Linked DNA regions of Homo sapiens: all the other regions are reported to be linked to region 1. The links are microRNA targets in miRTarBase. Many come from high-throughput screens and were not tested one by one. Region 1 holds a microRNA gene; each other region holds the end of a gene's coding sequence.

Region 1 (5,000 bases):
TGTCATGGCTTGGCTCTGATTTGCTTGAAGTCAACTCTGGGTGACTTGTTCAAAACTTCCAAATCGGCTCCCCACTGTATGTGAAATTATTGTGTTCCACAGAAGCAAAATACAACACACTCAAAATATGCCAATGAAACAAGTAAAACCAGTAAGAAAATACTTTGAAAGTACAAAAGGAAGCCATGTCCCCCTCAAAGCCCGTGGGTAGGGCCTCTGTGCATCTGCTAGTGATGCTGCCATTCCTTTTAAGGACTTTGGTTGATACTCAAACAATGTAAGAAAACAAGCTGCAGGAATTCTCTGTAATAGTATTTTTTTCCTTTCTTTTTCCTTTTTAACTAACCAATATTAACAACCTGCTCACCAGTCCAAATCATAAGATGGCAGGCACACTTAATGACTTCTAGCCAATAAACATCAAGGCAGTCAGTAGAGCATGACAGCTTATAGCTCAAGCTCTGGACTCAGGTGGACCTAGCTTGAATTCCAGCTCTGTGTCCTTCTATCAGGTGCCTAACCACACAGTTTCAGTCTCCTCATCATCGTAAACTAACGATGAAGATACTACCTATACGTAGTATGCCCCAGGACTGTGAGGATTAAGATGAAATAGTGTATAAAAGTTCATGGCACAATGCCTGCCAACAGACATTGCTCTATAACTACTAGTTATTTCAATGTTATAACTAGAAGAGCTAACTGCAGAGGATGGAGACTTGCTATCAATGCACATGGTACTGGTTCTAAAAATATTCCTAAAGAGCTCAATGATAGAAGACCAGTTCAAAATCATGGACTGCTTTCCAAGGTGATACTTGAGACTGGTGTTCTTTAGAACATAAAGCCTCAGGTAAATCTGTTTACACAACACTTACTATATCCTCTCTACTTCACAGAGCAATATTCTTGATAGCCCCAAATTAGAAGTATACAAATTTCCACCAACAGTGGAATAAACTATAGGATATTCACAAATGGAACACTATATAACAATGAGAATTGAGTATAACTACACGAATAACATGGATTAATCCCACAAACTGTTGAGTAAAATAAATTATATATATAAAGTAAGTACTGACTGATACCATTTACATCATGTTCAAAAACAGGCAGAACCAATCTATGGTCAAGATAGAGGTTACCCTTGGAGGGTGAACAGTGATTAGAAAGGGGCATGTGGAAGATTTCTGGGGTGCTGGTAGTATTTTCATTTTGGTTGCTGGTGACAGACTGTATCCAACTGGTGGAAATCCAGTAAGCTGTCACTTCTTGGTGTGTTTATTAAACATCAATAAAAAGTTTTAAAATATACAAAAATCATAACACAAAATTTTAAAGTGATAATTGTGTTTACTGCCCTAATTTGCCTAAAATATATTTAAGAATTTTAACATTAACCTAAAATATTTTTCTAATATGAGATAAAGCTGATGTTCTTTTTTAAAATAGTGGTACCAACACCTTAGTCAAGAAGAGTACTGTTGGGACATATTATTTTTGAACATACCTGCAAAAAGGCAAATAATAAAGCTGTTTATTATGGTTTCCCTGTCATAGTACCTAACAAAGAATTAACTGAAGTAACCAGGAATTAAATTAAACCCCCCCCCCCCTTTTTTTTTTGAGACAAAGTCTCACTCTTGTCTCCCGGGCTGGAGTGCAATGGCGCAATACCGGCTCACTGCAACCTCTGCCTCCCCAGGTTCAAGCGACTCTCTTGCCTCAGCCTCTTGAATACCTGGGATTACAGGTGCCTGCCACCACGCCGGGCTAATTTTTGTATTTTTAGTAGAGACGGGGTTTCACCATGTTGGCCAGGTTTGTCTCGAGCTCCTGACCTCAGGTGATCCACCTGCCTCGGCCTCCCAAACTGCTGGGATTACAGGCTTGAGCCACTGCGCCCGGCTAAATGATTTTTCACTCAAAAAATATTTGGTGCGCTCTTATAACCTGACAGTCATAAAGCACAAAAATGCTAGAGTACGCATTATAAGAAAATTTCACTGTTGATCAATTGAAAGTATTCCTATTGAGGAATTTTTTATACTTGATAATAGGCCACTGGCAGGTTAATCTCATTCTACTTCTCAATGAATTCATACCTATGAATAAGTAAACAGGATGTAGGAAGGACAGGTTCCTTGAGTCACAGACATCACCTCATCAAAGTAGGACCAAGGTGATTTTCCTATGAGTTTGCCCAACATGTTCCATACCAAAAATCACTTCTCAACTAATATAGTCAAAAACAAATATACAAGGCTGGGCATGGTGGCTCATGCCTGTAATCTCAGTACTTTGAAAGGCCAAGGTGGGTGGATTGCTTGAGCTCAGGAGTTTGAGACCAGCCTGGGCAACATGGCAAAACCCCATCTCTACCAAAAATACAAAAAATTAGCTGGGTGTGGTGGTGTGGTGTGCATGCCTGTAGTCCCAGCTACTCAGGAGGCTAAGGTGGGAGAATCACTTGAGCATGGGAGGTGGAGGTTGCAGGCAGCAGAGATGGTGCCACCGCACTCTAGCCTGGGCAACAGAGGAGACCCCGCCTCAACAAAATAAAATACACACGCATACACTCCAGTTAAAGATGAGGGGAATCCCACAGTAATTTGAGTCTACTTGCAAATATTCTTTCAAGGTAGGGAAGGAGAATTCTTTCGAGGTCAAGAAGAAGAATGGGATTTGGGAAACATTTTTAACTACCATAATTTTAACGACCAAAGGGCTATCCAAACTTATTATTTCTTTGTTAAAATCTTGGAAATAATAAAAATTTTGAAAAAAATTAATAACCTATTTAGTTATTGTGATACACTGTTATATGCAAATGTCCAAGTAAGCAATTATATTATATAGTGACATTTTATAATATAAAATGGTGGCCTATTTGGTAGCCTAATTGTATATGTTCAAAACGCAAAGTTAAACACCATTTCTAAAACAGAACAATGCAGAATGAATGAATGCTCAACTACCTGTGCTAGTAGTATATAAGAAGATATCCATAAATTATACTACAGGTACCTATTTAAAGTAATTATATGTAGTTCTAAAAATATGTATTGGATACTTTTTGGAGATAATTTACCTCAGTGGAGCATTCCTTAGTATTAAGAATCACTCATATGTTCTAAGCCTTGAATTCAGTGCCTGGGTGACTCTTCCTGTATCTAGCTAGCTAGGCTACTGGCCTGGAGGTTTGGGCAACACCGAGGTGAGTATGACCATCCCTGTCCTCAAGGAGCTTCAGTCTAGTAGGGGATGAGACATACTAGACTGTGAGCTCCTCGAGGGCAGGAAAAGTGTTTTAGTCATCTTTGCCCCAGTGACTAGCACCAGGCTCAGCTACTGTAGGTGCTCAACAGTGTTTATCGAACTGAATTGAACACGGGTTGCAGCCATCTATAGCAGCATAGGGTAAGCCTGACAAGAAGAACAAAGAGCTTTGGAGACTCAGAGGGTGAAGGCTAGTCAGCTGTGAAGTCACAGAAGACCCAGTGCGTGAAAGAAGCCGAGAAAGATGGGTAAGATCTCCCCAAATGAAGAAGGAGGCATTCTGGGCTGACAGGAGGGTTAGTTTAGCTACTGTGTGTGAAAGGGATGAGAAGACAATCTCAGGCCATAATGAAATGAGGCCTAAATGTTACTGTGGAAGCCTTTACCCAAACATAAAAGGTGACAAAACCCCACTGAAAGTTGTTTTGACCAGGGGAGTTATTTTTCCAGTGACATTTCAGGAAGATTGACTAAGCTGGTCATGCCAGACAGATGGGAAAAGAGCGTGGGATGGAGGGTGGGGGGCAGGCACAAGGAGTGAAGCATGACTCCAAGATGGTGCCGAAGATAAAGGCACTATTCCAACCTGGAGGAAGTGAGGAGGAAGGGCTGGCATAGAAGAGAATGTAACAGCTTGCTTTCTGGATAAACATGATGCCCAGCCAGCAATTTAAAATGTAGGTTTGGGACTTGAGAAAAGGGCAGGACCAGAACTATAGACAGACAGAGGTAAGCAGCAAAGCCATGTGAATGGGTCAGACATCCTGGGAAGAGTAATGAGAGAAAATGGGAGAAAATAAGAGGCTGAAAACAGAAATTTGGTTAATATTCATGGTAAAGGTGGAGAGATGGCAAGTCAATGAGGTAGAAAGAGATGCCAGGGAGGTGGGGTGATAGAACTGGTATCAGAGAGGAACAATGCCAAGGACAGAATCTGTCAAATCCTGAGGAAAGATCAAGGAGGAACAAATAGGAGCAAAACAACATGCAATAAAGCATGTCCAAAAGCCAGCTGTAAAGGTGAGAGAATAGGCAGTTAAGTTATATGAGAATTAATTAAGGAACTGAAGATTTTTGGCTTGAAGAAACTAAGAGGAGGTAAGGAAGCTGTTTAGAATTACCCTGAAGGCCTATCGTGTGAAAGGCAGAGTAGGGTTGTTCTATGGGGCCTTGAAAAGTAGAACCAGGCCGGTGTGTGAGAGTTATGGGGACGGAGACCAAGAGCGTGGCTGGTCTTTCCAATGTGGGGCTCACTGTATTGTAATAACCAGTGATACCTCGGTCTCCTCCACCAGACTTTAAACTCTCTGGGGGCAGGGATTGGGTCTTGTTCACTGTTGGACCCACAGAACCTAGCTTAGAATAACAAAGGTGCTTAGCAAACATTTTCAGACTGGATGAATCCTTTGTGCTTCTACCTATAGGTCTTAATTCTTCTTTGAAATACTCTCCTTAAAAGGAATCCTGTCTAGCAGGTTGAACAGCTTGAACATGTGGTGAGAAGGCTGGGCTAGATGGTGAAAGGCCTGGACCCTGCAGTTGATGATTTTTAGGAAAAAGACTAAAATACAGCATGAAAAACAAACCCATAAAAACTCACATAAAATGGAGGAAGTCCCCAAGTGTGAAAACAGGTGACACAGCACACACTGAACCATGGTATTGTTTATATAATAAAGCTTCTCATGCCTATGTGTTATATTACAGTATCTTGTTTA
Region 2 (5,074 bases), not on the chromosome of region 1:
TCACATGTGCAAATAATAAAAACTAGTTTTAATGCAGAAATTAGGATTTTAGCATACAGGTACTTTAACCTAAATCTCAATTTGTGAGCTGAAAATACAGAAACACTGAACAAGGAAAGCATGGTATCCAAGACAAACTTGAAGGCTTAGTCTCTGTGGACGTAAAAACCCTAAGACAATGTATTTCTAAGGCTGATAAAAAGTTGGAAAGTAGGAAGCATATTAGTTCTGTTAATTCCCCTCCTGCCACTGGTGTCCCAATTATCTAATTCAAGAGTGGGTAACTTCCACCTGATCTCAGTTCATTTTTACTTATCATCCCAGGTAATGGATATGGTATACTGCTTGTGGCTGTCCCTTCCAGAGTGAGGGCTTGAAGACATTAAAAGTTGAATGATAACTGATTTCATACCTTGAAATCCATACCTCTAAGTAAGCAGCAAGTTGGCCAACTAAGATTTCAATCTGCATTTTGTCTGCTTTGCTATTTAGAAAATTACACAGGGTTATGTTACAGAAAGTGAGTTTAGATGGAAAAGACCTCTGAGGTGAAATTTAAGACCTATGATTGCTAAAATGAAGCCTACAATGCAAAAACTGGGGAAGAAACTATTCTAGGCAGAGGCAACAGTGAATGCAAATGCCTTAAGATGGCAATAAGCTTGGTAGGTTCAAGGAACAGAAAGGTGTGTATGTAAAGTATAGTTGAGGAATGGTCACAGAACATGAGTGGAGGAAAGGAAGATGAGGCTATTAAGGCTAGCAGGAGTTTAGGCACCGAGGGCCTTTAGCAGGTGAATGAGGTCTGATTTACCTAATTTTAAAAACTACAACTGTTATGTGGAGTGTATCCAAGCCAGAAAAAAGTGGAAGGAAACCAATTACGAAGATACTGTAGTCTAGGCAAGAGGTAATGATGGCTTAGATTGGAATGGCAGAAGTAGAGTGAACAGATTCAAAATGTAGTTGGTGGTAGGCAGGACTTGCTAATGGATTTGCTATAAGAAGAGAGAGATGAAGCAAGAGTAAATTTCTAAAATGTTCTCTTTTAAGGAGATGTGCAGAATATTCTTTGTATTTTTTTAGACGGTCTCACTGTGTCACGCAGGCTGGAGTGCAGTAGTGTGATCACAGCTCATAGCAGCATCTTGACCTCCTGGACCCAAGAAGTCCTCCCATCTCGGCCTCCCAACTAGCTGGGACTATAGGTGCACACCACAATGCCCAGCTAATTTTTTTAATTTTTTTGTAGAGATGAGATTTCATCACATTGCCCAGGTTGGTCTAGAACTCCTGAGCTCAAGCGATCCTCCAGCCTCAGCCTCCCAAAACGTTAGGATTACAGGTGTGAGCCACTGTGCCTGGCCCCAGACATTGAGACATATTCATGATGATACGAGAAACCCTACTCAATTTTATAGCTTGTATAGTATTCTACTGTATGACTATATCACAATTTATCCATTCTGATAATGGATAATTATTGTGTATTAGAGTAGGCTAACAAAGAGACCCAAGAATGTATAATGTCTCAAATAACAGACATTTATTTCTTGCTCACTTAATAGTCTCAGATACATGTTCCTGGTTGGCAAGTGGCTCTCCTTCAACAGGTGATTCAGGGGGTCAAGATATCTTCCATTTTGTGTTCTTCCATCTCCTAGGGCCCCATCATCATCTGCATTTAGCCAGAAGAAGGGTAAAGAAAGCTTGGAGGTACACCCACTCAAAAGTTCTAACCTGCAAGTGGCATTCATCACTCCACTCACATTCCATGGGAGAGGAGTTAGCTGGCTTCTCCTTCACTAGAGAGAGTGGAGGGAAGGGGGATAACTAGGAAATATACAGTCTAGCCATTTGTTCTATAATCCCATAATTTGCAAAGGTGAAAGTAGATCTCTGATACTTGTTTTCAGTATTTCTCTACTGTAAACTGTACTGCAATAATCATTCTTTTTTGTGTCTCTTGGTACGCCTAGACAAAAGGAGTTACTCTGTGTATACCCAGGAGAGAAACTGCTAAGTCTTCGGGTACATATCTTCAACTCTGCTAGATACTGCCAAATCACTTTTGAAGTGATTGTACCAATTTGCATTCCAAACCATGTATGAAAGTTCATAATACTGTCAAACTTAGTTTGTTAGTCTAATGAATTTTTTTTAAAAAAACTTTAAAACTCAATACTGTGATTAGAATAGTCTATACTGAGTCCTGCTGATCCCTGGTCTTGGTCAGGAAAAACGAAAGGAATGCCTGCAAGAGGTCCCTGGATGAAACTGGGCAAGTTTCCTATACTAATTCACTTTAATCTCAAACTACTCATTTTAACCAGCATAATTCATGAACCAAAGAATTACTGAGACAACTGCATGTGGAATTTATTTCAAACTCACCCCCATCTCTAGCCATCTTCTTACCCCCATACAGTGTCAAGGAGTCATGCAGCAGGTCGGCGTCAAAGAACACTGGAAACATCTTTCTGAGAGTCATTTATTTCTTTTGTCATTGCCAAACATTCCCCAGGTCTTACTCACCAGAAATTAACATAGCTTCTTCATTTCTCCTCCCTGACAACCCTCATCTACTGAAAGGGCTTTAAGGGCACACTGCCAATGAAAATGCAGAGTGCATATACCATGTCCTTAACTTGTTTCAAAACTACCTATTCTGGCAGTATCCAATTCAGGTTTCAGTGCTCCCTTGTTTGAAAGTGGTCTTCACAAAAGCCCACATTTTAAAGCTATTTGGAGGAGCACAAAGAGTTAAAGTGGTAATAGCCTTTCAGAATTTGAAAAGGTAGTACTTGTCTATATCAGGTTCATTTTTTATGTGGCATATGCCACAAAATAGGCAAGAATATATAAGACCAATATTTACGCAAAATGGGGAAGAGAATCCAGAAACACGACAACAAAGCTGCTCTAACCAATGTTCCAGAGAAAGCCACCCTCAAAGAGAAATAACCCATTAAACATTACCAGATAGGCATGAGGTACAGAAAAAGAATTTTTCTTTCCAGCTCCAGATAAATATCTACATCTGGTGTCAAAGTCTCAGGATATAAAGAGGAGAGAACTCCATATATAAAAGAGGATAGGACAATATTCTCAGAAAATTCAAAAAGACAGAGGTTGGCTAAGGGGATGGGTGGAAACAGTGGGGCGTAGACTAACAAGTAAGGTAAAGTCCAGGGAGAAGGAATGCGCACCTTGGTTTTCCCTTAGTGGCACTACCAGGAGCACTAGGAGACTGTCAAAACATCAGGGGCAATGTGATATTTCTCAATTCTTAAAACCAAAGAAGCAAAAATAAGCTTCAGAGGGCAAGTGATCATAGCTATGGATGAGGCCTCGGGCTCCAGGAAAGTTGGGGCAGTATTTATTGCTGCTTCTACTTTCTCTTTCCTGTCATTTTAATGTTTGGGTCACTTTACTCCTAAGGTTGCTTTTCATGTCTGTGGGTCTAGTCACTGCTACTTGGTACAAAGCATTTCCCAGTATAAACAGCATAGGGTAGTTCTAGAGTTTTCATCCTAAATCCGTTTTCTTACTTTCAATCTTAAAACCATATTGAGAGGACAAACAGCCTCCATAAAGTTTTTTTCCCAAGGAGACAGAGTAATCTTATTATGTGAATGACAACAGTTCTAACTTCTAGACTTGTTATATCACAAATACAAAATGACAAATCAGTTATGGTTTTAAAAAATTAGTTTGGAATGGTTTCACAAGCTAGATGATGGAGCAGCTACTAAATCAATGGAGCTTCCAAGAACATTCTATACCCCAGGAAGGAAAGGACAACCAAAGAGGTTTCTTAGTTTTGTACAGGGCAAGAGGAGCCTATAGTTGGCCTTGAGAGGGAGCTCTTTGGGCAAGATAAAAAAACAAGAGGACTTGACGAGGAATAGCAGGAAAACCTACTAAAAGGGGAGGGGGGAATCAAAATGTAAGAAGGGAAGACAGTGAAATTTACACAGGAGGAAGGAGCTGAGAAAGTCACAGCCTTACACAAACAGCTGAAAGAATCTTCACTCAGTCCTCCCAGCACAGGTCCCCGTGACAACAGCATCACATCTGCTTTCCTAGGAGCACTTTTACACTGACTGCCTATTTCCTTCCTCGTTTATGATTAGTCTTTGGGGGCTTTACTTTCTGGAACTGTGCTGGCACTGGCTCCTGCTCTGGTTCCTTACAGGAGGCTGACACTACCAGTTCCTCATTATTCCTCCTCTGATCCTTCCCTACTCTAAGACTCAGCTCTGTCTCGGGAAGCTCAATGCCAGGCTGCTGCCGCCTTCTTAGAGACCTTCTGCTCCTGTGCTGCTGCCTCCGCTTTTCTTCTTCTTGCTGCCGCTGCTTTATCTTCATCAGCTTTTCAAAGCTTTTGGTTGTTGTTGGGTTTACAACGAACCAGTCCTAGAGAGGCAAAATAGAAATGTCATCCAGTCGAAAATATAGTGAAGAACATAAAGAAAGGTGGAGGAAGAATGGAAAAAAGGCATGATTAGGGCAGAACACAGTAAGAAGGAAACAGATATGGAACCATACCTCAGGATTCTATATTTTAAGATGGAGAAATCCAACACAGAGCAGCTATTACAAGCACATATTTTGTAAGGCGTAATTCTAGGGACTTTAATAAATGATCTACAAAGTCTGTTTACTTAGCATCATCCCACTCTTATATCTCCTGAGTATAAATCTCATCATGAGATGTAACACACTGAGCCATAGGAGATTTTTATTCCATGACGGCATCGTAACTAAGAGCATAAATTTTGCAGCCAGACCCCCTGGGTGCAAATCCCAGCTCTGTTTCTAGATACGTGACCATGGGCGAATTACTTAACATTTTCGAGGCTCACTTTAAAAAATTAAGGGGTAGGGGACATGAAATCCAATTATGAAGTATTTTTGCCAAAAAAGAAAGAACTTCAATCTTATCAAGTGATCTGTTCAATCTTCTAAATCTACCAATTCATAGGAAAAGCCAGAATAGGGAGTTGAGCCCAATCTCTCTGCCCCACTGCAAGACTCCACTGCAGTGGTCCCTGTACCTCAAAAACAAACA
Region 3 (5,074 bases), not on the chromosome of region 1:
AGACTTCCCAGTAGTCTCCTAATTCTCACACCCTAGCTTTGTCACCTCTGTTTATTATCTGTGACCCTTTGGCAACCATGAAAGTACCCCTTGGCTTTTTTTCCTTCTCCTTTGCTTGTGAAAATAGACCAGATCTCCCCTGAACAAAAGAAAAGTAAAATTATTCACTCTGCTTATTCAGTCAGGAGGACTCTGTCTCCTAGGAAGTGTAGTTCTTGTTAACATTTTGAGCATAAGTTGTCTGTTTATTATATCTTGAGATTTGAGGTCTCCAGCTTTCCAACTCCAAATCCAGTCATGGCTAAAATAGAAGTGTTTTTCCCCCCTAAGAAGTCGTATCTCTAATAAGGCCAGACTCAGTGGCTAACACCTGTAATCTCAGCACTTTGGGAGGCCAAGGAGGGCAGATCACCCGAGGTCAGGAGTTTGAGACCAGCCTGGCCAACATGGTGAAATCCCATCTCTAATAAAAATACAAAAATTAGCCAGGCGTGGTGGTGGACACCTGTAGTCCCAGATACTCAGGAGGCTGAGGCAGGAGAATCACTTGAACCCGGGAGGTGAAGTTTGCAGAGAGCCGAGATCATGCTACTGCACTCTACCCTGGGCAACAGAGCAAAACTCCATCTCAAAAAAAAAAAAAAAAAAAAGTCATTATCACCTCCCAAGCAAAGCTAACAGAGAGGATAGGAGGTACCTTGGACTCGGTAGTATGGATGTAAGGCCTTAGCATGAGAAAACTAAGAACTGTGAAAGAGCTCTGATTTCTGAGAACAATTCTGAAAAGCCCTGCAGGGTTGTTGTTTTTTTCCTTGAATGTAGTGGTAGACTTTTTCTTTTTTGGAGTGGTAGGGGACTTGTCTCACAGAGCTTGGAAAGTATCTCTCATGTGAACATATTCCACCATCATCTAAAAACATGCTTTTTAAAAAACCACACTTGGCTGGGCACAGTGGCTCACGCCTGTAATCCGAGCACTTTGGGAGGCTGAGGCAGGCGGATCACTTGAGGTCAGGAGTTCAAGACCAGCCTGGCCAACATGGTGAAACCCCGTCTCTACTAAAAATACAAAAATTGCCAAACGTGGTGGCTCACGCCTATAATCCCAGCACTTTGGGAGACTGAGGCAGGTGGAACATGAGGTCAAGAGATCAAGACCATCCTGGCTAACATGGTGAAACCCCGTCTCTACTAAAAATACAAAAATTAGCTGGACGTGGTGGCACGTGCCTGTAGTCCTAGCTACTCGGGAGGCTGAGGCAGGAGAATCACTTGAACCCGGGAGGTGTAGGTTGCAGTGAGCCAAGATGGCGCCACTGCACTCCAGCCTGGCAACAGAGCAAGAGTCCATGTCAAAAAATAATCATAATAAATAAAATAAAAATAAAAATACAAAAATTAGCTGGGTGTGGTAGCAGGCCCCTGTAATCCCAGCTACTCTAGAGGCTGAGGCAGGAGAACTGCTTGACCCCGGGAGGTGGAGGTTGCAGTGAGCCGAGATTGTACCACTGCACTCCAGCCTGGGCAGCAAAGGCTGCCCATCTCAAAACAAACAAACAAACAAATAAAAAAACACACACAAAAACATTGAGCTCAGTTTCCTCAACGAAAAAAGGAGCATATACCTAACCTACCTTCCTTGCTAGGCACTGAGAAGGGCCAATAAAATTATGTTTATAAAACTTAGTATTTTAATGTAAGAAAACACCCCCCTCACACACAAACACATTTCCTCCCACCAAACAACCTCCACAAGCTTGGAATCAGTCATCCTGGGTAATGGATGACTAGATGTGGGCCATGGAGGTATCTGACAGAAGAAAGGTGACTACATCAGGACAGAACTTGACTCAAAACTAAATTCTAAACAAAATATTTTTATCCTACAAAACAGCTCAATGAGCCACTCCCCACAGCTAATCCTCCATCTTTCATAGAGGTCATCTGGCCACAGTGGCTAGACCTGGGCACACGCAGGGACAGAGCAAAACAGAAGAGGGGCCTATGGCACTATCTGGATGGAGAGGAAAACTCATGTGCGCTATTTTTCGGATGACCCTAGGCTTGTATTATTAGAAAAGTGCTTTCCTTCCTAGGACTTCTCCTTCCAAGGCCTATACTCAGTTAAGAGAGAGACTGAAAAGAGATGGTGCCTGGCCTTAGATTAACTGAGGTGCTGTTGTATGCATGCTGCTAATGGATCATTAAAAAAGCTGGGAGTCAGAAAAATCACATCCATGTCTTTGAATGGCTCCTGCTGTCCCAGCAGCCTAGCCGGCTGGCAGAACTAGCTGCTGAGCACCAACTCCAGGAAGAAAAGGAGCAAACAGAAGAAGGCCAACCCAGCTTGCTGTTTTTTTGGCTGAGTAGGGAATTGACACAGACCACCTCCAGCTCCTGTCTGGAAGTTTCGAGATCAGAGAGCTTCAGGCACAGCTGGGTTCACAGCTGCACCATTTGGAGCATTGGGCTCATTAATATTCATGAGCCATCCCCACCAATCGGCAGAGCGGATGCCATTAGCTTAGCATCTGTCGGGTTTTTGTGAGGGTTGCACATGGAGTTTTTTTCCCCTTTTAAATGAACTTCTTCTGACATTTTGGATTTGCCTCTGTAGGTTTTCTATCCTCGCCTTGCTCTGCTGCATCATATAAAGGAGAGACCCAGGGGAGGCGGGCAGGAAAGAGGGATGAATACCAGCCAGGGCTTTGCATCTGCCTGTTGACAAACTTTATTTCTCTTTCAGCACCTGGCACCTCAGACAGACTGCGAGGATGGAAGCAGCATCAGGTAAATTATACCTAACAAGGTTCACGCCCAGAACTGTGAGAAGAGTTGGATCCCAGCTCTTTGGAAGACAATCCTTCCTCCAGTGGTGAACTTGAGCTGCACACACAATGCAGGAGGGCTACAGAGCACAGTTCTGAAGCATTATTTCCACACTGATAAATTCATGATTTATGAAAGGAAATACTGCCAGCGCTCACTCCCTCCTTCTCTGCTACAGCTTGTTAGACACAAATTGCAACAACAATCTTAAATACTTGCATTTTATTTCAGGCCAAAGCCCCTCCACTCTGAACTAAATGCCATGACAGTCCCACAGCATAGGCTGGTAGTAAAAGAGCCCACAGACAGGGTAGGATAGCCAGAGGAGGGAGGAGTGGGCGACAGGGAGGGGAAGGATCACACACACAAACCTAAGAGTAGAGCAATGCAGAATGCCTGTGGCACTCGGCTCCTACCAGCTCTGGCTCTCAGTGGAGATGAAGAATGGCAGCAGGAGGACAGAATGCCTCATTGTCTGAAGGAGAGCGTGTTGTTTCTCATCTCCATCCCCAGAGCCCTCTCTTTCAGGCAGGCAGAAACAAAGCCCTTGCACCCCACTGCACTGCGCAACACAGCAGAGACGCTGGTGGCGGAAGCCCTGGAGGCAGGGAGCTGCTACCAAAGGAGAAGAAAAGGATTCCAAAAAGAAAGGAGCCCACTCTAACCCTGCGGAAAAGATGGCCACATGTCTGCTTTATAACCAGAAGAGACAGTAACAGCCCGGGACAGCCTTTCCCAAAATAAAGGCCCCTGGGCTGTTACTGTTCCCTCTGGCTGTGGCCAGCCACTTCTCTCTCATGCATGACCATGAGCTGTTGTGCAGGTCTCAGGCTCCACTCAGCCAGGCTAAGGTCTCGGGACATAAATCCCCAGCAGCAGGAGTCACAGCACCAGTTCCATTCAGTGGTATCAGTGAAAGAAAAAGCAAGGAGGTGGGAAAGTAAATATTCATCCCCCTGTCCATGCAAGGAGGTAGGCAAGAGGCCAGCCTCCCACAAACAAAGTGCTCTAGGGCTACAGCAAAAACTGAAGCCAGCCAAGATGGGGATACAACATAACCACTCCCAGTGGGATGATGTTCAATATGGCAGCTTAGAATTTGCCACATACGGGTCCCCAAAACTGGTCACCTGAGGAGATACTCCTGGTCCTACATACAAATGACCTGCAGAAACTCAGATCCCAGGAGAGTAATATAGGGTTCTGTTCAAAAGCAACAGCCCCTGTGTCTTATGTTTAACTTACAAACATCTGCACAGTATTTGTTCCCATGGAAGAGGCATAAGGGGCTGTAATGACTGACCTCTGTCAATCAGCCCAAGCAGAGGTGACTAGAAGACACTAAGCAGCCCAGCCTCCCACATACCTGCCCTGTGCCCAGTCCCACCTGAGTAAGTCTCCTGGCCCGCATCTTCTCTGACCATCTCAGAGCAGAACCCAGAGCTCACTTTTCCAAAACTGTTTCTAACTGACCAGGGTCCAAAGGCACAGCATGATCTCCTCCCACAGCCCTCCTCACAGACTGAAGAGTGGAGGTTCCCTCTTTGGGTCTTCCAAAATCACAGCATAATGGTGAGGAGAGGGGTGGGAGAGTGGGACTTTCCAAGGAAGGAACCTCAGAGTCAACAACTGGAGCCCACACTTCTAAATGGTCCTTTTCTTCACTGGGAGGCGGTGAGGGAGAGCTCCTCCTACCCGATCTTGGAAGAAAGCAGCAACTGGAAAAGAGTGGGAAAGGGAAAAGAAAGGTATGAACAGCTTGGGTAACATAGGGAGACTCCGTCTCTACAAAAAAATAAATTAGCCAGGGATGTTGGCATGTGCCTGTAATCCCAACTACTCAGGAAGCTGAGGCCAGAAGATTGCTTGAGCCTTGGAGGTCAAGGCTGCAGTGAGTTATGATTACACCACTGCACTTCAGCCTGGGCAACAGAGTGAGACTCTGTCTCAGAAAAAAAAGTATGAACATATAAACAAAAATGAACAGAAAGGGAAGTCTCTCTGAGCCTGTTCTGACTCAGGAGGCTGCCCGATTAAAAAAAAAAAAAATGGCTGGGCATGGTGAATTATTTGAGTCTGGGAGGTGGAGACCAACCTGGGTAACCTGGTGAAACCCTATCTCAATTTAAAAAAATAAAAAAGAGGCCGGGCGTGGTGGCTCACGCCTGTAATCCCAGCACTTTGGGAGACCGAGGTGGGCAGATCACGAGGTCAGGAGATGGAGGCCATCCTGGCTAACACGGTG
Region 4 (5,074 bases), not on the chromosome of region 1:
AGTATCTCTCTTTAAAAATCTACACAGATGGTTCACAGGCACCAGCCAGACCCCCTAAACCACGACCGCGCAGGACTGCACCAGAAATTCACCACAGAAAACCCCATGGGCCTGAGGCGGCATTGGAAAATGTCGATGCAAAAATTGCAAAACTCATGGGAGAGGGTTATGCCTTTGAAGAGGTGAAGAGAGCCTTAGAGATAGCCCAGAATAATGTCGAAGTTGCCCGGAGCATCCTCCGAGAATTTGCCTTCCCTCCTCCAGTATCCCCACGTCTAAATCTATAGCAGCCAGAACTGTAGACACCAAAATGGAAAGCAATCGATGTATTCCAAGAGTGTGGAAATAAAGAGAACTGAGATGGAATTCAAGAGAGAAGTGTCTCCTCCTCGTGTAGCAGCTTGAGAAGAGGCTTGGGAGTGCAGCTTCTCAAAGGAGACCGATGCTTGCTCAGGATGTCGACAGCTGTGGCTTCCTTGTTTTTGCTAGCCATATTTTTAAATCAGGGTTGAACTGACAAAAATAATTTAAAGACGTTTACTTCCCTTGAACTTTGAACCTGTGAAATGCTTTACCTTGTTTACAGTTTGGCAAAGTTGCAGTTTGTTCTTGTTTTTAGTTTAGTTTTGTTTTGGTGTTTTGATACCTGTACTGTGTTCTTCACAGACCCTTTGTAGCGTGGTCAGGTCTGCTGTAACATTTCCCACCAACTCTCTTGCTGTCCACATCAACAGCTAAATCATTTATTCATATGGATCTCTACCATCCCCATGCCTTGCCCAGGTCCAGTTCCATTTCTCTCATTCACAAGATGCTTTGAAGGTTCTGATTTTCAACTGATCAAACTAATGCAAAAAAAAAAAAGTATGTATTCTTCACTACTGAGTTTCTTCTTTGGAAACCATCACTATTGAGAGATGGGAAAAACCTGAATGTATAAAGCATTTATTTGTCAATAAACTGCCTTTTGTAAGGGGTTTTCACATAACATAGAGGAGCTTCCCTTTTTTGTTTAAGTTTTGTAACCTTTAATCCTCCATATTCTCATGTCTGTCATCCCAGGGGTGTCACAACTGTAAAAATCTACAATATTAGAAAGCAGCTACTACAGATGTGGAAGAGAGAACACTTGTATAAGACAATGCTGTACTGAAGTTATATAACAAGGTCCCCTGATACTTATGCCTGCATTACTTTGAGGGATGCTGAATGAGAGGACCATCTCCCTGAAATATATTAATAATTTTCAGATAAAATTATGAACATAACATACCTTTTCTCAAGTGGAATTAGAGTTCATTTCCCATTTAAGTGATTACACTCTATCTCCTAAGAGCTGTGGGAACCAGTTCATATTGCAGTGGAAACATTAACTCTTCGTTGCACTGTTGAGTGTCAAGGCTACTGTGGCAATGTTTTTTGCAAAGTTCTCAGTAATTTTCTCTCTGCAATCAAATTAGAGTTCATATTTAATTTGCAGATTCTCTCATTCATTGCTCCACACTGCTTTATCAAATCAGGTGAAAGAAATTAATGTAGTTTTGCCTATTTTACAAAATGGTGGTTGGTTCTTTAAACACCATGTTATTACTCTTAATAAATCTACAAATATTTATTGAGCATCTATGATATGCTTGGTGCTGTTAGGCACTGTGTTTTTAAAGCACAAACTCTCAAAAGCTGATTCCAGCGTAATGTTTTATTTTTGTTTTTCTGTGTTTTTTATGACAAAGTCTGTCTGATAGACAAAGCCTGGAAGGTTTCCCCCAGGGCTTTAGAATTTAGAATTAGCTGGTTTTCATTTCAAATGGGAAATTAATGGAGAAATGAGATAAAATCATCTCTGTGTAAATGCTTGAACCCACAGAAAGTTTTCTAAATATGGACTAATTGTGGGTTTGTGCATATTTCTGTGTCTCCTCTTTTCACTTCACACCCACCATGATATAAAAAGATGCATCAGAGAGTGAGCCTGCCTTCAGGACCTGAAAGGACATGACTGAACATCTAGTAGATCTGGTGGAAATTAATGTTATACAAAAGACACGTAGACTAAGTTGACCCTGGGAGAGGAGTTAATACATTCCTTTGCAAAGTGACATGTGCCCTTTTTTTGACAGTCTGGCTTTCATGGTATGAGATGAGGACTCACAGGCCTTGGGTAATTTCTGCTTTTGTATGAATTTTTTCAGATGGTTCTGAGCTGGTTATGTCCCTGGAGGGGAATTTTTCATTTGCCTTAGATGTTCTTCCCATGAGTAGGTACATGAGTGAAGTTTCTTACACTTTTAAAATTGCATTGGCAAATTTTCTTTTGCTTTATGAACCCCTGTTTTGTCATTATGATTTTTCACTTGTTTTAACAGTTTCAGATGTCACCTTGGAATAGCACTGTTTATTTTGGCCTTTTTATGATTGCTGATGATAGGTACAGTCTAAAGGCCAAAAGTTGCCACTTCATTGTGATAACATTGTTGCAACATTCCTAATATATTAGAGAATGATGTAAAATAAGAATGTTAGAGAACATAGCACATTCTCATTCAGTTTATAAACAATATTTGAAAATTTCCAGTGAGAATTAAAAAAGGACTAGTGATGATATAGCAAACCTGGACCTGAAATTTGGGGGTGGGGGGTGGGGGGATATCTGTTTTGCAGAGAAAATTTACCAGCCTCCAGCAAAATCTCTGCATCTTGTACTCAATAGCAACCATTAGTATTGTCATTTAAAAAGAATGAATCAAAAATTCATACGTAATGGAATGAAAAGAGGAAAACTTTCTATTAAACACTGTCAAGAAAGACCCATTGCTATCTATCACCTATGAAATTAAACCTAAAAAAATTTTTTTTTATTGTAAAAGCGACTGCTCGTTGATGTCTGGAAGTGATCCAGACTTTGTTTCACTGTGATCCAAAAAGTTAGACATTCCTTCCATTTCTCAAGATTTGGTAACAATTTTTTTTTAAGTCAGCATTTCATATAATACATAAAATTAAGACAAATTAACTTACTGATATGTGGCCAATATCAACCCTTCTCACCCAACCCAAACATGTTCTGGAGATAGAAGGACTTATCCTCAATTATATTCCAGTAAATTTATCTCCATAATCTGTTTTATCCCCTAATGTATGATATATCTCACCAAATTTTTCTAGAATTGAATAAAAGCAGTTTTTGCTTAACTTGAATTTCCTTCCACAAATACAACCTTCAGCTCTTCCCTCTCTGTTTCCCTTTTGCCCACATTGCAAATAGTCTTCATAATAGAACCCTCACTGCAACTTAAAAGGGTCCCATTTCTTAACTCAGCATTTCATATACCAAGAACACTTGCAAAGATTTCTTCATAATGTGATTTTTTAATTTTTCAGTTCCAGAAGCATTTCCTACAGTTCGAACGTTATTTTTTCTCTCAGATTTTCAACTTGAAGCTTTGATTTGCACTGAATTAACTTGGATAAAATTTTAGTTTCTCTCTTCAGCTAACAGATTTGGAAGCAAATTACAGTATACTTGAATAATTCAGGTACTACCTGTTGACCTGGAATTTTAGTGATTCTGGGAAAGTTTTCCAGACAAAGACACCAATAGAGTGAAGGGTTTTTTCCCCAATTACTATTTTATTGTTTTTTAAAATGCCTTTTTAAAACTTGTGTGATGTGGCAAAATAGTCATATGTTCAATTAATTTATATTTTATTCATTCCTTTTCAATTCTGGTTATTATGTAACCTCAAGTACTTTATCTGTTCTTTTAAAGTATTTTATAAAATGAACGTTAACTAAATGCAGAGTTGGTACTTTATTTTTCAAATGAACACAAAAATTTTAGAGCATTTCTATGATGTAATTTTTCTTTTTCATGTCTAATTGAACAAAGTGGTGCAAGGTGTACCCATCCTAGGTAATTTAGTTATTAAGTACCAAAATCACAATTTTAAGGTAGCCTAATAGATAAAATTGCCCCTATGTCATAGATCTGAATGTCAAAGGTGTATCAAGGTTCCAAGTAAGAAATATCATATCTGGGAAATGCTGAAAGCCTTCAGGATGATGTACTATAATATATAATTGATAATTCCTGATCAACAGTACCATCTGGTCTTTAAATTCCTCATTTCTTAAATCATTTTTTCACTGATCAGTATATAGTGGGGAGAGAACAACAGAGATAACAATGTTAATAATTGCTTTTATATCAAGAATCATGGCAGAATATTGTGAAACTAATTGTTACATGCAAAGTTCCGTGCATAGTAATAACAATTACTTCCTGGAAGCATATACCATGAAATGGAAGATACACATAAGCAAGTAATTCCAGTACAAAAATGTGTGTACAACATACCACATTGTACTAGAATTACGTCTGTATGATAAGTGCTTAAGAACTAATTATTGAGCCTTTATTATGTGTAAGGAGCTTAGTGTCAAAGCATTTAATGCTTTCGACAACCCTGCCTCTTTTAGGACTGTGGAAGGGAAGTTGGGAATTATATTTCTAATAGAAAGTTTGACAACCCATAAGACTAAGTAGTCTTTTGTAAGCCTAAAAGGAGCAAGGATTTGTTGTTGGTATTAAGAAAGAAATTCAGAGTTAAAGCTTTTCAAATAGGAAGAGCACACATGATAAAATATTGTTATTTAAGCAAAGGTGAGATGCCGCTCATCATCACTTCAGTGCTTTGAGAAGACTTGTTCTTCTCTCCTAAAAGCCCCCCCTCCCCCCGGGAAACCTCTGTGGGACTCATTAAGAGGCTGGTGGCAGAACTTCCATTCCTGTGTCCTAAGAGTCATCATGAGCAGAAGAGGATGGGCTGGAGGGTTACCTGGGAAAAGTGAGTGATGAGTGAGAATGTTCTGGGTTTGGTCCACCTCTCCCAATTCAACTAATGATAGCTCCCAGAGAACACCAATTATAGATATTAGGGAACTGGCATTTTATTCTGTTAGAGTCCACACAGTGGACTTACTGATCTGCCATCTGCGGTTACTAGAGCAGAGCAGAACATAACTAGAGAGGAGTCAACAGTGAATCAGGTAATAAGCATCTCCACCATTGGGA

The links. The annotated mature microRNA hsa-miR-151a-5p reads UCGAGGAGCUCACAGUCUAGU and lies in region 1 at 3,277-3,297, opposite strand. An mRNA with a match to its seed (bases 2 to 7 or 8) in the 3' UTR can be bound and repressed. Matches are read on the target gene's strand: a 7mer-m8 pairs with bases 2 to 8, a 7mer-A1 pairs with bases 2 to 7 and ends in A, and an 8mer does both.
Region 2: the mRNA of ZNF512 is a reported target of hsa-miR-151a-5p. The part of its 3' UTR that is shown has no 7-base or 8-base seed match.
Region 3: miRTarBase lists SNX11 as a target of hsa-miR-151a-5p. The part of its 3' UTR that is shown has no 7-base or 8-base seed match.
Region 4: miRTarBase lists CBLB as a target of hsa-miR-151a-5p. Seed matches in the 3' UTR shown: 7mer-m8 at 386-392.

The regions. Positions count from the first base shown.
Region 1 is chr8:140,729,347-140,734,346 of GRCh38, forward strand. MIR151A (microRNA 151a) reads right to left here and starts at 3,307; the gene lies at 3,218-3,307. All of the region lies in intron 25 of PTK2 (protein tyrosine kinase 2), which reads right to left.
Region 2 is chr2:27,620,498-27,625,571 of GRCh38, reverse strand. It overlaps ZNF512 (zinc finger protein 512), which reads right to left. Exons shown (of 14, transcript NM_032434.4): 14 at 2,355-4,419. The coding sequence ends at 4,111. Among named protein-coding and RNA genes, the nearest start is that of CCDC121, 6.0 kb to the left of the region's middle.
Region 3 is chr17:48,120,708-48,125,781 of GRCh38, reverse strand. It overlaps SNX11 (sorting nexin 11), which reads right to left. Exons shown (of 7, transcript NM_013323.3): 7 at 2,181-4,547. The coding sequence ends at 4,274. Among named protein-coding and RNA genes, the nearest start is that of SNX11, 15 kb to the right of the region's middle.
Region 4 is chr3:105,654,183-105,659,256 of GRCh38, reverse strand. CBLB (Cbl proto-oncogene B) reads left to right here. Exons shown (of 19, transcript NM_170662.5): 19 at 28-3,796. The coding sequence ends at 287. Among named protein-coding and RNA genes, the nearest start is that of CBLB, 210 kb to the left of the region's middle.